Linked DNA regions of Homo sapiens: region 2 is linked to region 1. Evidence: fine-mapped expression QTL. Tissue or cell type: tibial artery. Region 1 holds a variant in brackets; the other region holds the start of a gene. All regions are shown on one strand. Distances are from middle to middle.

Evidence for each region. PIP is the estimated chance that this variant, and not a neighbour inherited with it, causes the effect.
Region 2: TLN2 starts here. The variant in region 1 is fine-mapped to the expression of TLN2 in tibial artery (GTEx, PIP above 0.99). The same link has a PIP of 0.9 or more in subcutaneous fat.

What each region holds. Positions count from the first base shown.
Region 1 is chr15:62,510,153-62,518,257 of GRCh38, forward strand. The region is part of intron 1 of TLN2 (talin 2); the gene reads left to right. Among named protein-coding and RNA genes, the nearest start is that of TLN2, 120 kb to the left of the region's middle. The variant C/T (reference allele first, on the strand shown) is at 3,783.
Region 2 is chr15:62,385,600-62,393,704 of GRCh38, forward strand. It overlaps TLN2 (talin 2), which reads left to right and starts at 4,951. Exons shown (of 59, transcript NM_015059.3): 1 at 4,951-5,086. RefSeq lists enhancers at 4,371-4,440, 5,359-5,973 and silencers at 4,607-4,803, 4,851-5,180.

The DNA of each region.
Region 1 (8,105 bases):
GTACCCCAAATGGCTCGTGTTCAGCTTCCCTTCTCATGACAGGTGCTGCCAGCCCCTTTGGGTCAGCACTGGGCACCCACCAGAGCATGCCATTTTCCTCAGGGGCCCTGGAGAAGGGTTCTGAAGTGGTGGCTCTTGAGTGGTGAACCAGAGGGTGGGGCCCTGGGCTTTGGGATCAGCTAGGCTTGGGTGTCGCTTAGTAGCTTTGTGCAAATCATTTCATCATTCTGAGCTTCAGTTCCTTAAGCTGTAAAATGGTGCTTACCTTATGCAGTAGTTGAGATAATTTAGATGATGAGATGGCATAGAAATAGGTATATGATGATAATATATGTATCATATTTAAATCTTGCCCAACACATAGTAAAACATACTACTTTGAGCTGGGCCTATGGCTTAGCATGTCATTTAATGTGTAAGTTATGGGTATTGTAATTTGGGAGCCCCTATGGAGCCTCTGTTCTTTTATCCCCACTAATTCATGCATGGTGATGTTTTGCCTGCTCCAGGGCGATGCTGTGGCAGGTGACTGAGGGTTTGCTGACCTTGCAGGAGAGACAGTGAGTGCCTGGGCACCAAGCAGTGCCCTTTCTCTGCCCTGCCTGCCCCCAGTGCCTCCAGGTCCTTGGAATGACTCTCTGAGAATTAATAGAATGTGTTTTTATGTATGTGAAAGAAGACAACCCCCAGAGAATCCAGTTACGTGCTATAGAGTGATACCACATGCTCTTCCTAAGTCTAGGAAAAGAATTGTATCTGGAATGAAGTGTAAAAGTTAAGACACAAAGATTGTCCTTTGGCCCCAAGTACAATTCGAAAGCATTTTGACAAGAACGTCTTACAATATTAGTGGCTTGATTATTTATTTTGTGCTGTTCATATCTCACCCAATGCTAGGCTCTACAGCTAAGTCGTCTTTCTGTCTTCACTATGGAGTGACCTCCAGACATTGACCCCTCCTGTGGTTGTACTGTTTCAAGCTGTTTTGATAAGGCTGAACTAGGATGATCAGGGCATGGCAAAACAGCTATTAGCAGCACTTGTTATTAATGACATATGAACGTGGTAAAATATACGGGCTTCCGATGAGTCTATTAGTGTGTTTTTTTATGTTTAGGAATGTTTCTAAGTTGAAGAGCTGAGGAGTATATAAGAATGACTCCATACTTTTCCATGAAAATTCAACACCTGTCCTCAAAACAGCTGGGTCTAGCTCCAAATTGCCCACTGTAGTCTTGTGAAAATTTCTTTGAATTCTCCCTTTTTTTCTCAAAAATACTTGGATTTCACATTCTATCCCATAGTGCATTTTATTTGTTTTTATGTTAAAATGCTACTTTTCTTCGCAAATGTTAGAGGAGGGTTGACTTGCCTGGAAGAGGTGCCATGTTCATCTTGCAGCTCCCCTACCTGCTGTAGGCCCTGGGGGAGTCTCCCTCCCCACCCCACCCCCAGCGTGAGAAGCGGAGTCCTTTCTGCCACTGACAGAGGGATGTTTCTGGGAGTAAGCGGTATGCTTCATGGAGTTCACCCCTGAATTTTGAGGATTGACCCCAATTTCCTTAGTTATTTTGAAATTTCTAGAGATTGGTATATCTAACTCAGGATGAGATCATTTATGTTTAAACCATTCTTTTGAGCTAGAGTGGAATGAGTGACCCCATTTTTCTGAATTTCTTGCCTTTAGTTAAAACAAAAATCGGTGTTTAACTTGCCTTCAGATGATCTCTTCTGGGTGTTTTTCTGAGAAGACACTCTCAAAACCCAGCAGTAACCCTGGTCGATTTTGCACCTGTGCCTGAAATGCTCCCTTGCCGTGCCCTGGTGTCTAGTCCTGGTCAGTGCACTCAGGAGGCTTGCAAAACTCAACTCTAGTCCTAAATACTCCTCTTCCAGCACTTACTTCTTCAGTCACAAAGTTGCTTTGCCCACCCAGCTGCTGTCCTGGGTCACAGCTGGAAGCAGAAAAGTCTAAGCTTAGTATACTTTGGATGATGTTTTTTACACTTTTGCCACATGACAGACTCTAGAGCCCCTCAGCATCTTTTTGTGTGGTTTGGATCTGCCACAGGAATGGGGAATGTTAGTCTTTTAATGGTGAAATTACTACATCATTTCTTGGGCCCTCTGACTGAGTCGGTTGTCTATTCTCAGAAGAGGCTCACTTCTGGACCTCTCGGTTCAGAAATCTGCTCTCTCTTAGTGGAAAATTATTTCCCTTCCTTTCTTTGTTTAACCTTTCCCCCATTCTGGATAACATATTGATCCTAAGTAGCATAGTAACTCTAAGAAGTCACCCAAAGTCCCACAGAAACTTAAATTGCTGTAGAGGCTACTCATAACTAAATAGACCACTCTGTCTTGCCCTTTAAGATACTTATAGTAGACTTAAAAAATTTAGATGGTAATTGCTGAGAGACATGATGTGCTCTTTCCGAGTGTACATTTTCTTTCTTCTCATGGATGGTATTTGAGGTTCTGTAATGACATTAGTTTGACAGACATAGAGCCAACCATAAAAAAATTCATGGGTTACCCTTGCATTGAAGTAAGTCAGTGAAATGAGTGGCTGTTTGTCCAGATGTTATTTGTCCACAGTGTGTTCCAGTTTCTTGGAAGGAGAACCATCCTACACAAATCCTCCATGCTGCTCTGCTGGTTTGGGTCAGGATGTTTTGGGCATCTTCAAGACTTCCCTCTCCTGTTTGGATTGGTAACAGTATCTGTTTCCCATTCATCTGGCTTGCAAAACTGAACTCTAGTCTTAAATCCTCCTCTTCCAGCACTTATTTCTTCAGTCACAAAATTGCTTCAAGCCTGCTTTCCTGACCTCCTGATTCAAGGATTCTAATTTCTTCTAGTTAGCTTTGATTGGTGCCCTGACCTCTAATCTCTCAATATCCCCCTTTCATGCATCCAAGTGGCAGCTGCTACATAGGCATTCCCAAGTTCTCCACTTTGCTCCAGCTGTCCTTCCTGCCTTAGGAGCCTCTGGTCATGCTGAGTCCTTCTCACAATGATGACCTAGATCCTCCATCTCTCCCGACATGGTCCAGCCACAGCCCCCTCCTTACTGCTTTGCAGGCCCTTTGCTGTGCTTTTCCTTTGCTTGCTGTGCCTGTCTACCTGTTGCCAGATGTTGAGGGCCACCTTGTTTCCCAAAGCCAGCTCCAGTGATCCCTCTTTTGTGGTCCCTCCCAACACCTGCCTGCCAGGTGGGAAGTGATAGCTTTCCTGCTCAGCATCTGTGATGCGTTGTCTCTTCCTAGTGCTGGTGTCCTTTGCTTTGTGTTAGAACTTTCTGCTCTGTTGTAAATGTTGGATTTCCTTCCTGTTTCGACAGGGAAATGTCTTATAGCCTGGGGTCAGCTGGAACAGTGGAGGGAGTGTATCCCATAACCTTGTAGACCTTTACCTTTTGCTAAGGGCAAGTCACTTAACCTCCAGTTACCCATTTGTGAAATGGCCCATCATTCTTCCCCTGCAGGGTGATAGTGATGATGAAAAATGAGGTGTAACAGATACTAAAGGGTCTAGCAGAGTGTCTGGCATATGGACAACTCAGTAAATGCCAGATCCTTCTCTAGGTTTCAATCCAGATAGGGTCTAGAAGAAGTTCTACACAAAATTGGTGCTAAATAAATATTGATGGAATTGCAAACCCTTTCAGAACCTGTTTGGCATTTTGTAGCTGCAGATTAAATGGTGTAAAAGCCTGTAGCCTTGTGTGTTGGAGCTGTGACTCTGGCTCTGTTACACTGATTTCTGTCTTTAGTCTAGGG[C/T]GGAGAATATTCCAGATCTCTTACAAGTTAACCCCTCCGCCCTCTACTAACCAAAGCAAAAGAAATTCTTGTCAAGGAGTTGGCAGAAACCTCAACATTAGCTTTGCTATAACTTGAAAGACACAACTTTCTAGTTTTTGCATAATATATGCGCACAGCACACACTGTACCTAGCTGCTTTACTTTGGTCACCAGTTGCTTGTTGGCTACTAGCCTAGTATGCGAACACCTCCAGCTTTTTTAGTTCTTGTTGGTAATTAATTTCCTAGAGGCTCTTATTACTTGTGAACAAAACTTTTGAATACATTATGAATGAGGTTTTACCTGATGTCATTATGTCAGTAGTGTTATGAAAAAAATAACCATAAAACTTTCTTCATTGTGGCAGTGAAGTATAATTCTGTTAAAAAGATCAAATGTCTAATGCTCTTAAGAAAAATCCTGAGTCTCCCTTTACAAGTACGTATGGCATGTTGGGAACAAAGTTTTAATACGGTGCTTTTTTCCCCTCTCAAAGGTCTTTTATAACCTGTTTTAGGCAGATGAGCTTGTTTGATTAAGAGTGGTAATTAATTCACAGTGGTCATTAGCATGTAAATATAATGTGACCTTCACATACTGTAAGAAGAGATTTTATTTTAGCAGTTCATGGGCATTGACTTTTGACAGAGGGAAAGAAAGGGAAATTGTATCAGTTAGTTTGGTGTATTATTTCAAAACATGGAAATTAATTTTGTGTCAGGTTGTAATTGTAATTGAAGTGTTAAAGACTTCGAGAGTGGTAAATTGCATTTAATCTCTCAGTAGTCCTTAAGTGAGTATTCAACAGTTATCTTCCTAAATAATTGGCATTGCTAATGAGAAGAGTTAAATCAGTTTCTATCTTTACCCTGTTGGAGTGTGGAATTAACAAACTGGGAAAATGAAAACTTTCAACTTTCCCAGAAGAGAGTAAATATGCAAAATGCCATTTAAAAAAATATAACTCACTTACACCAAGGAGAGCGGAAATGTAAGTCTGGAACATTTTGTGGAGAGGAGCAGGTATGAGGCAAAGGTACAGACCTAGGAATTAAGAGCACGTGAACCTTGGAACTCCCTACACACTCTGTTTCCTTCTCTGTCAAATGAAGCTGCTTAGCTAGAGAAGATCTAAGGCCCATTTTAATGCTAAGATTTTTATTATTTCTGTTTCTCTGATTTTTTTCATCTTCTATTTAAATCTGTGTGGTAGATGGCTATCTTCAGTCATACTCCCAATATAATTTTAATCCCCCCAAAAGTATATTTATCATATCAGTTAGCTCTTGCTATTAGCTCAGCACTGTGTTGGTGAGATTGATCCATGTTGTTGTTTGCATGACTGGTTTGTTCATTTTTATTGCTGCATAGTAATCCATTGTGTGAATATACTATAATTTATCCATTTTACTGTCACTGGAAATTTGCATAGTTTCCAGACTTTGGCTACTCCAAAGAGCCAGCAAGTTGTGGTCTTGTTTTCTGGCATACCTGTGTGCAGGAATTTAAAACTTTCTCTTTCTCCTTTTCTTTGAAATATAACTATAACAGATCCTATTATGTGTTGGGTTTAGTAAACTTTGTGATGAGTGTTCTCCCTGAAGGAGAGGGCATTTCTTACTTAGATACAAGAAATTATCCTTAGGCTTATCTGTGTAGACATACTACCAGTGACTAAAGGATCACTGAAAACATGCATACAGTTTCTAGTTTTTAATTTGATCTTCATTTTAAGTGCCTTCTGTGCATGTTGGGGTTTTTGGTGTTTTTCACACATCTGATTTTTTTTCAGACGTGTGTTTTTATATCAGACTCCAGTGAATTCTTTTGGTAGTGGACAGGTCGTAAAGTATAAATAAATCCAGCAGAACATACTTGCCATTCCTCTTGTAGGCACCCTCTGCCTGTCCTTTATGTGTGCTGGGCTTGCCCCATAGCAGCTGTGGTTGCTGGCATGTCCCGCTGTGCAGTAGCTCGCTGCTGCTGAACCCCCTATGCAACAAGATCCTGGGTGGGGAAGGGCAGCTCAGGTATGATGTGGCCAGGACTCGAAGGGAGCCAATCAAGTGTGAATTTCAAAACTGAAGACATTTGATTAGTGTGACTCTACTTTGTGGATCATCCAATGCAACCATCTCTTTTTACAGGTGGAGACCTGGGTTTAGAGAGGTCAAGTGACTTGTGCAAGTAGAGACCATGTCTTTTGCTGCCGTTTCCGTTGCAGCTTATATGAAATTATTATTTATAGTTGAGAGGGTAAGGCAGTATGAAAAGAAGACAGTGTGCTCACAATTTATTATAGTTTTTGGCAATAAGAGCTTCTAAATTAGGTCCAGAACAACATGTGAGTTTGCCTTCTCCTTTTTGCAAATGACATACAGCATCCTTTCCTCTTTGGATTATGTTTTCAGTGTTTTTATATGGGTCATAGGTTTATTTTGGTCCTAATCACATTATGCAGTTAGGAGTTTTGCTGCTCTGCCTGAAGAATTCTACATTTTACTCTATTTGTTTTGACTACAAATAAGACAAAATGTGTCTGTCAGGTGAAGGAACATATTCACTCTATGGTGTTGGTAGTGACCTATAATTATCTCAAATCTTTTGATTTCAACTTTGGGTGCATGCTTGCTTCTGGACAGCTGTTGCAGCCTTGATCCGCCTCTTGTCTCTTTTCTTCCCATGGCTGAAGGCCTGGTGGTGTCCTTCTGCCTTTGGTACCATCAGTCTCTGCCCACCCAGCTTAATTGGACAGAAGCTCTAGGGGGCAGGTGATCAATCATACCACGACTCATTTGCCTGTGCAGTCATTCTTAGTAGCTTTGCCTCGTATCATTTTGAGAGCAGAAAGTTTTTTTGGGGCTGCTTATTTAAGATTTTAGGTAGGAGGTGAGGTAATTGCATGAGGCAGAATTAGGTATTGATAAACTTGGTCCTGAGTTTTATTGGAAAGGTGTAGGTTGACTGGAGTGGAGGGAGATGTGGGTTTCACTGGAACTATCCAGTGATGGGATTGTTCTGACTATGATGCTGTAGATTGAAGATATTGCTGCTCCGTCACCATGTGGCACCTCCTCACTGTTACTATTTCATTGAAGATCAGTGGATACGGATGAAAGAGCTAATAATATTTCAGTGGCTGGTGGATGTTCTGAAGCCAAGGATGGCGAGAGGTTGCTGCTAATTCAGAGATTACCAAACCTTCGCCGTTCCTCCCACTTTGTGCCTTGGAGTCCCCACTTTCTGCACCTGTGCCTTTCATCCTTTAGCCTCTTTGTCCAGTCTTTACTACTCCTTAGGCTCACCCTTGTCCCTTTGTCCTCTTCCTTTTCCTTCATACCCTGAACTGCTGTTAGTAGAAAATCACAGTAAAGGTTCACACATTTGTTGTACTTGGAATAAAATGGGATGTTTCATGTTTTTGCTTGAAAAATAACTGAGTTAAATCCTTATAGATACAAACATAAAGATATCCCAAACAAAATTGTTTCTACTTTTAAGTTTGCTTGGGGGCCATGGTGGTTTACCCCCACTGCATTTGCCGAGCAGTGGAGAAAAATGAGGTGGTGATTGCTGTTTTGCAATGAACCTGAATAATTATTCCACACCCCCAATATTTTAATTTTGTACCCCTTTTGTAAACAAAAAAATGACATTGGCCAGGAGAATGAGGACTCTACTTACATTCTAATTTGTTTTTTAAAAGTCAAACACACCGCTAATGTTATAAGAGAATTGGTGCTTTGTGGCTTACCACATTACCCACTTGGAAAAACAAACATGTTAATTCTAAGGAACATACTGATTTGATGGTACAAAAGTTTCCCAGACCTGTTGGGTAAGTCTGTTTGTCTCTTTCTTTTTTTAAATGAAATAATTATGGGAGACTCTGTAGCCATGTCCCAGCTCTGCCACTTACTTAAATATCCCTGGACATATTACTTGAACTATTTAAGCCTGAATTTTCTCATAAGAAAAATGGGGTTAATGATTTTACTTAGCCATAAGATTGTTGTGTGGAACGAGAGTAAAGCACTGACGTCAGACTGAGCACATAGTAAATGCTCATTAAATATTAGCTAGCAGCAGTTTTTTTTTTTTTGAGATTGAGTCTCACTCTGTCGCCAGGCTAGAGTACAGTGGCATGATTTCGGCTCACTGCAACCTCCGCCTCCTGGGTTCAAGCGATTCTCCTGTCTCAGCCTCCTGAGTAGTTGGGACTACAGGCATGCGTCACCACGTCCCGCTAGTTTTTGTATTTTTAGTAGAGTCGGGGTTTCACCATGTTGGTCAGGCCGGTGT
Region 2 (8,105 bases), 120 kb before region 1:
AGACATGATCTAATCATCTTATTTTGTTTAGAACAAATCCATTCCATCTGAGGAAGACCTAGAATAATATTTCCTAGATGACAATAAATATACTATTTTAAAATTAAAATTGGTCTAATCCCTAAACAAATTTTTTTTAAAAGAGTTCTGTGGCACCTATAAATAAATAAAAAATCTCCAGAGCCCCAAAGACCAATCTTAGCTAACATATTTTAGTGAAACGTGGGCGGGGGGCGGGCGGCGCAACGGTCTGTGATAACAGATTTTTAAAACACTTTTTTGTTTAAAAGTCTTTCTACTGTATCTTGATATTATGGAACAATTTCATGAAAACATATTTATCCATAACCTTAAAAAAATTCCAAGTGACCAGAGACTTAAATGACACATACTTAATAAAGCAATTTTGATGATACACAATAAAGTACTTTTAAAAGATTTTTAATCACAGTATAACTCCAAACACATCTTAAATCAGCAAGCAAGCAGCCAAAAGAAAAAACATTCTGCCTCCTATACTATTCACTCTATATTAACGATTTGATTTGGATTAAGGATCAATTCAACTTAGGAAAATAATTACTGGTATTATATTCTTCTAGACAGTATGTTGCTTCAGAGACATTTAAAGAACCTTTTTAGTATGTTTTATATGCTGTAGAAGAAAAATTAATGTCAAGCATGTTCTGCATTGGGTATGATGATTACCATTTCCTGAATCTATCGGAGCAATTTCCTCTTTTCTTTTTATTTTTTTTCTTTCTTTTCTTTTTTTTTTTTTTTTTGAGACGGAGTCTTGCTCTGTCGCCCAGGCTGGAGTATAGCAGCACCATCTTGCTCACAGGAACTTCTACCTCTCGAATTTAAGAGATTCTCCTGCCTCAGCCTCCCAAGTAGCTGGGATTAGAGGCATGTGCCAATGCACCCAGCTAATTTTTGCATTTTTAAAAATAGAGACGGGGTTTCCCTATGTTGGTGAAGCTGGTCTTGAACTCTTGATCTCACGTGATCCGCCTGCCTTGGCCTCCCAAAGTGCTGGGGTTACAGGTGTGAGCCACCGTGCCCAGCCTCTTTTTTTCTTAAAAAAAAAAAAAAAAAAAAAAAAGAGGTAAGGTCTTGTTATGTTGACCAGGCTGGTCTCGATCTCCTGGCCTCATGCAATCCTCCCATCTTGGCCTCTCAAAGTGCTAGGATTGCAAGCATGAGCCATCATGCTCAGCCCAATTTCCTCTTTTAAATAGGACATTTAAATCTGTATCTGTCATGCTATCCTGAATAGTTAGAAATGAAATGAGGTCCTATGCTTTGAGATAACTAAAAAGCTAAAATATATTAATTTTTGCAAAATGTCAAATATTTGCTTTTCAAATAAATTAAAAATAACTTATGAACTATATGCTGTACTACAACTCAGATAATATTTCCTCCTGTAATTTTTGGTTAATATACTCTCCTAAAACTTATCAGAAAAGAGGTAGAGAGATTTCTAGAAACCTAAAGATATCAAATTACAAAAGAAGCCTAAGTATCTTCTTTTCATCTCTGGTTCTGAATGATGGACAATTTTGAGAAAATGTGGTTCCTACCTACCTTGCTCTCAGGAAAGGATACAAACATTTTTGAAAGAGAGGAAATCATGAACTGTTGGTGTATTGTATCAAGGGAGCCCTTTAAAATATTTTATTATGGCACAAAATATTCTCTTATAAATAAAGTATAACAAAATATTTGGTGGAATTTCTTTTATTTTTTCAACATGGACACAGTTGAGTTTGCTCAGCTATGAAAGCTGAGCAAAGCCACCCCAGATACCTACAAGTGCTCAACAGGAATTCAGGAGGTTAAGGCTCAGTGCAATGGGAGGAGAGGGGCAATCTCTCAGCATCCAGCTCTTTAGCACCAAGCAATGTCTAATTTGGTAATTACAAATCTGACTTGTGAAGAAAATGGTTTTTCGTTCCAGATATATTTATTACAAGTGACTTGGAAGCTATCTCTTTGACTTACCTCCCCAAATGTTCCACTCTTTATTCATACAAAGTGTATTTATTTTGCTACTTAAGATCTGCTGGGCAGAAGTAAGAGGCTGTAAGGCTTGAGAAATTGCTTAGATGGAATGTTTTATCTCCCACCCTGTTTTCCTCTGCTGGGTAGAGACGAAGCCCCAAAATGTAATCTTGTTAAAAAAAGTTAGATTTTGTTTTTTTAGTTTTTTTTTGCTGGTCTACAATGAACTATGATCACTCTGAATAAAGACAGCGACTACTAGTAGCTGACTCTAAATTTAGAAATAACTTTTTTTAGGTCTAGGGAGGCATCTCAATTTCAGAAAAGTTAGTAAAGGTTACTGGTAAAATTGCTTTTACTTCTACTGGGGAAATTTTTGAAAAATATAATGCTAGGACGTAGAATGGTTAGTTGATTTCTCTAAAAAAACAGTAAATGGTTTTTAGAGCCCTAAGAGTGGTTAGAAAAACCAGGAGCTGTAAAATTAAGAAGTGTCCAAAGCCAATTGGTTTGAAGCTAGAACTAAAGCTGAGTTCTAAGGCTGATGTTCTTTCTCACTGGGGGAAAGAATTTAATTGACCTTGGAAAGCCACAGAATAGTGCTATCTGGCTTATTAATGCCCAAATATTCAGACACCTGCACCTCACCCTTGTGAATGCCTTAGGATTTAGCTGGAACTTTGAAAAGTAACTGAACCAAACCAAGGCTATAACTCTACAGGATCTCAGCATCCCAGAATTTTGCTGACACTCTAATAGAATAGATAACTTTTCAAATATCTCAGGAACTAGTAAGATAGGTAGTGAACAAATAAGGCTATTTTCATAAAGCAGATTTTTATTGAGTACTTATTAAATACTATGTGTCAGGCTCCTTCAGGCACAGAGATACAGATGAGGTTCTTGCTCTCATGGAATGTAGCTTCCATTACTGAATGGCATCCCGCTGATGGGTAGTGGAAAAGTGTGGGGATACTTTCAAGAGGATGCATTAAGTAATGGAAAATCTTGAAATCCAGGTGTCAGAAAGATTTTGAGATGCTTGATAGGAAGCTATTGGGCCCTATGAACGGAGGACTAAGTGGAAGGGGAAAATCACTTAAGTTGCAACCATTTTTTCCTTTCCTTCTTGATGAGCCTCTTATGTAAACCTGGCATTTGGACCATAAAAATATGGTTATTCTTTGTTAGTAAACCAAGGAACAATTTAGGTGGCATTAATTTAGTGAGCTTATTACCAGGCTCATACAGAAATCAATAAACATGTACTTTTTAATCAACCCCTGAGGTGGCTTGTTGCCACCACTAGTTATTCTGTGAGACTGGTGAATGTTTAAAAAGGCGTGGTGAACAAAAATACTTTACCTGTACAATGAGAAATTGTGCCCTGCAATTTTTAGGACTTTCTCAAGTTGCCAAGTAATTGGTTCTCTCACTGTGCATTGATAATGTATACTTTGTTAGCTTTACAGTTTATATTCTGCAATAAGTTACAAAGTTGTACCCTAAGGTTATCTTTGCTGCTATGATACATACAGTCCGGTTCATCAGCCTGGTTAAGGACAGGGTATTGTTCTCACAGAATGTCCAGCCTTATCCAATGTTCCAACGGACTTATTCAAAATAATTTCAATTTACAAAATCAATTCAGTCTCCGGTTTATGGTGACAGCAGTTTCTTTCTCTGAGAAACACTAAAAAGTTGCCAGCAGTTCCATTTGAGTAACTGAATAGATTTGCTACCTATTTCCTGGTCCATTCTGTATTGGGATGGAAATAATGTCGTCTTTCCTTTTTTTTTTCTTTTTTGAGACAGAGTCCCGCTCTGTCATCCAGGCTGGAGTGCAGTGGTAGGATCACCGCTCATGCAGCCCCCGAGCTCCCGGGCTCAAGCGATCCTCCCACCATTCTCCCCAGTAACTGGGACTACAGGCATGCGCCCCCACACCCGGCTGATTTTTAATTTTTTTTGTAGAGATAAGGTCTCGCTATATTGCCCAGGCCGATCTTAAACTCCTTGGGCTTGAGATCTTCCTGCTTTGGCCTCCCAAAGTACTAGGAGTAAAGGGGTCATGGCTAATTCTTGTTTTTTTAAATTACTAATGTGTCCCTTACAGATAAATAAAAAAGTAAAATTACTCACAATTCCACCAATCACTGAGAGACTTATTGGTGTTTATCTATCCAGTCTTTTCTGCCTTTCTCCATAAATCACAGTTTTTAAAAACGGGACCATACGGTACATAGTGTTTTGTCTCCTCACCCCCTTGAATAACCTTCACATTGTTCCATGGTATTTACAGTATTTACTAATAATGACTGTAAATGTAAGAGGTATATAACTGACTTTATTCAGGGCATGGCAAGCAGGAGTGAATTATTTTCTTCTTATCAACACAGCACGCCCCTACCGCCACTCATCCCTATAGTCGTTCTCTAAATACCTAAGTGACACCTGACCAGCAAGGTTTCAGGGTCCTTGTGCTGAAAGGAGCAGGCTCGCCTGGGGTCACGGCCCTCCGCTTCGCAGCAAGACCCCACCGCCCACCACGGCCCTCCAGTTAGCCACAGCTCGCTTCCCCCAGGACCGGGCCAGAGGTCCCGAGAGGGCACTCTGCGGACCTAGGGGCCCCAGCCTACAAGACGCTGTGTCCTGCAGTCATCCCCTTTACACAGCAGAGCCCCAATTCTGGGAAGCCGGGGTCACCCCGAGCCTCCCTTCCCCGTGACAGCTCGGCCGGTGCATCACCTTCCCTCGCGGACCCTTTCAGCATCACCACGCGTGGGAGGAAACCCAGGACGGGCGCCTGAGCCTCGGTGGCGGCCCACCCCGGTGCCGCGCGGCGCCGCGGCCGGACCGGCGCCGCGCCGTCCCCGAATGATGACGCGCTTCCTGCCCTCCCAGCGCTCTCGGGCAGTGCGCTCGCGCTCGCCCTCGGCTCTTGTTCCGCGCCCGGAGCCAGCGGCGGCGGCAGCGGCTGAGGCGGCTGCGGGAGCGGAGTGGTCGCCCAGCGCGCGGGGGGACGCGGGCTGCACTCCCGGGCAGGCGCTCTGCAATGAGACAGTAAATGCATCCCCCGGTAAGGCGCACGGCTCACTCGGGTTTTCCTCTTCCTCCAGCTGCATGCACGTTGCATGAATTTCTCGTGTCTTTTCCCTCCCCTCTCCAGAAGGAAAATGTGGGGTTTTTTTTCCTCCCTTTTGCTTCTCGTGAGTGATGCCAATGCAGGAAAAACCCGTAAAGCTCCCAGATTTGATGGTCTAGGAGGGCTTCTTGCAGGAAAATAAAAATAAAATGAAATTAATGCACCTGTCTATTGCACATGTATGTTTCACTGCACCGGACCCGGGCGCAGCGGTTTGCAAACAGCCTCGCAGTCGGCGCCAGAGAGCGGATTCCTGGCCGTGGGCAGCCGGTCCCCTCCGGGGCTCTCGCTGGGTTTCCGGTAACTGGGCTTTGAAAAGCGGCCCCGCCTGCATAGAGTGTCCCCTCGACCCCAGCCGGGCCCCCGCGCCAGAAGAGTTGGCGCTGGAGGAGCAGCTTCATTCCAGCACTGGCCGCCGGGACTCCAGCGCCACTTTGCAAACAAGTCTCCCGCCGAGGCTCTGGGCTAAGACAGCCCGCCAGTGCGGAGTTCCTTCTCCGGTGCCGGACACTCAGACCTGCCGATCCCACGACTGCCCTTTACTTGGCAATCTCGCCACGGGCGAACTGCTGGCCGCTGAGCGACGGGGGCAGTGCCGGGCCGAGAGCGGGGCCAGGCTTTGCATCCAGTGCGGCTGGCCTCACACAGACTCAGCGGCTCCCTCTCCTTCCTCGGTCCCACGAGCTGAAATTTTGCGCCCATTGGAAGCTGGAGGGACCTGGAGACGAGTATTTCGGGATCCCTGAGGGGACCGAGGAACGACTTTCGAGGGCGCCATATTTTCAGTGGGTCTTGACTGCGGAGGGGAGGGGGCGAGCAGTTTCTGGGTCCCGGGGAGAGCCCCGCGCCCCAGTCGGAGAGGCCTGATCGGTTGTCGCCGGGAAAGTTTGCGCGCCGAGGCAGGCGCGGAGGCGGCCGCACAAGGCGCGCACGACTGCTGTCCCCGCAAGGGCGCGCGGACTACAGCGCGTCGCCACGCCAGCCGGCGGGGCTTGGGAACGAGAGCCGCCGTCACGGACAGCGTGCTGGGCTTGCCGCCTTCCTCTGTCCCGCCTGGACCCGGCCTTGGGGCTCCGAGGCTCAGGGAACACGCCCCTCTTCCCCGCAGCTACCGCTGCCCGGGTGCTCAGCCGGAGCCGTGCGCTGGGCGGCGTCCCGGGGCTGGGCGCCGAGTGTAGAGCGTTCTCCCGGTGCCCGGGCTCGCCTGGGTGCTCCGAGGGGCGCAGTAGCTCACTTCCTGGGGGAGAGGAGGCGCCTTGGTTCGTGGATCAGGACCAGGGCCTGGCCTGTGGTCGCCCCGAGGCCGCCGAACAGCCTGAGCTTCCAGTCGCCTCTTTGGCTTTAGCGGCGACAGCAGTAGCGCCCGCGGCTGCGTGTTCTGCTCTCGCAGCTCGTAGAGGCGAGGAAAGGAGGGCGTTTCCAGAAGTTGGGGCTTCAGGTGACGCGTGGGGAAACTTGGATTCTTGCTGTCCTTGAAGAGCTGGGACAACTTAGGCCAGAATTCCTGTGTCTCATAGTGAAAACTTCTGGTTCTTTCCAGAAGATGAGAGAGGAATGAACTGAAGTGTTGGCGTTGTCAAAGACATAATTAAAGACGGTTGGGTAGGGATGATGTCTTGGAGAAGTGGTCCCCAAAATACACGTAAATTGCCCTGGTGCTGTAAGTACCACTTACTTTTCCATTAATAATACCTGGGTGTGTTAAGCTGTGGCATTGTAAGGTTGCACGCTGACCTCCCTTCTCCAGAGCTTGGAGGCAGCGACCTCTCTGGAGTGAGGGGGAAGCGGGAGTGGGGAATCTTTACTTTTGAAGTAGACTGTGACCTCTGCTTTGTGATGGGACAGGGCACGGGCGTGTTTGCCAACCTACAGGCAGCCAATTGCAGGAACGTGTTCTCCTTGGAGTGTTACCGAAATGATGTCATAGTATTGAGGTTTTGTCGGCACTTCCGGTCTTCTTCACTGAAGAGGCTAGAAGGGACCACAGAAACCTCTGGGGTTGGGGGTTAGGTGTGCAGAGGGAGGGGAGAGGCTTTCCTGTGGGAGATGTGCCTGGAGATGTTAGGTGTTAGGCAGCTCTTTCCCTGATTCATTTCATGAAGCGCCTGCAAAAGTGACTCCGATATGAATGTCAGCCAAGATTTTACCTACCTTGATTGCTTATTTGGGACCTCTATGCAAAATCAGAGGATGGCGGTGGGTGTGACAAGTGGTCTTGAGAGAAGAGGGATGCCTACACGAATGCCTTTTTTTTTTCATTGAGCACTAGAATAGTGGAAAACACCCAGAGCCCAAGATATATTTTTCCAAAATTAGCATAGCTAATTTAGAAGAGAAATCAGTTGCAGAAAGCCTCAATCCGTTTTAAGTTTCCAGTCTTAGAGGGAGCACCTTAATCACAGAAACAGGTCTCTTCATATTGGGGAAGCCACTGGTTTCTCTCTGCCTTTGTAACCATTTAAGTTATCAGGGAGATTCCAAAGAGTATTAGAGGGTCTCTCTTTTTGGCATTGATGTGGAGCTTCTACCTCGAAAGAGAAAGCGAACTTTTAACAACTTGACCCTGTTGAATGAGTTACTAGGGATATTCTGTACAGGCATAGGCTATATATGTGTTTTGAACTCATCTACTGCTGACTCATTCAGGTTTTTCCAAACACTGTTCCCTAGAGTATTTTTAAGTGAAATTAGGGTTTAGGAAGAGGTGAGTATGTTATTTTCTAGTCAATATCTGTCTTTTCTCTCTCAAAATTAACCTGATTTCCCCTCCTTCACCCCTCACTCCCAGAACATCGTTAGTTCTCTAGAGCAGTAAAGGACGATTACAGGTGGTGAATGATATAAATTTTTACCAACTATGCTCAGAAAAAAACTATGCATCTAAATAGGTATTTATGCATTTTAGCGTTATGCTTTGTAACTATGTATATGCCACATATATTTTATACATGTT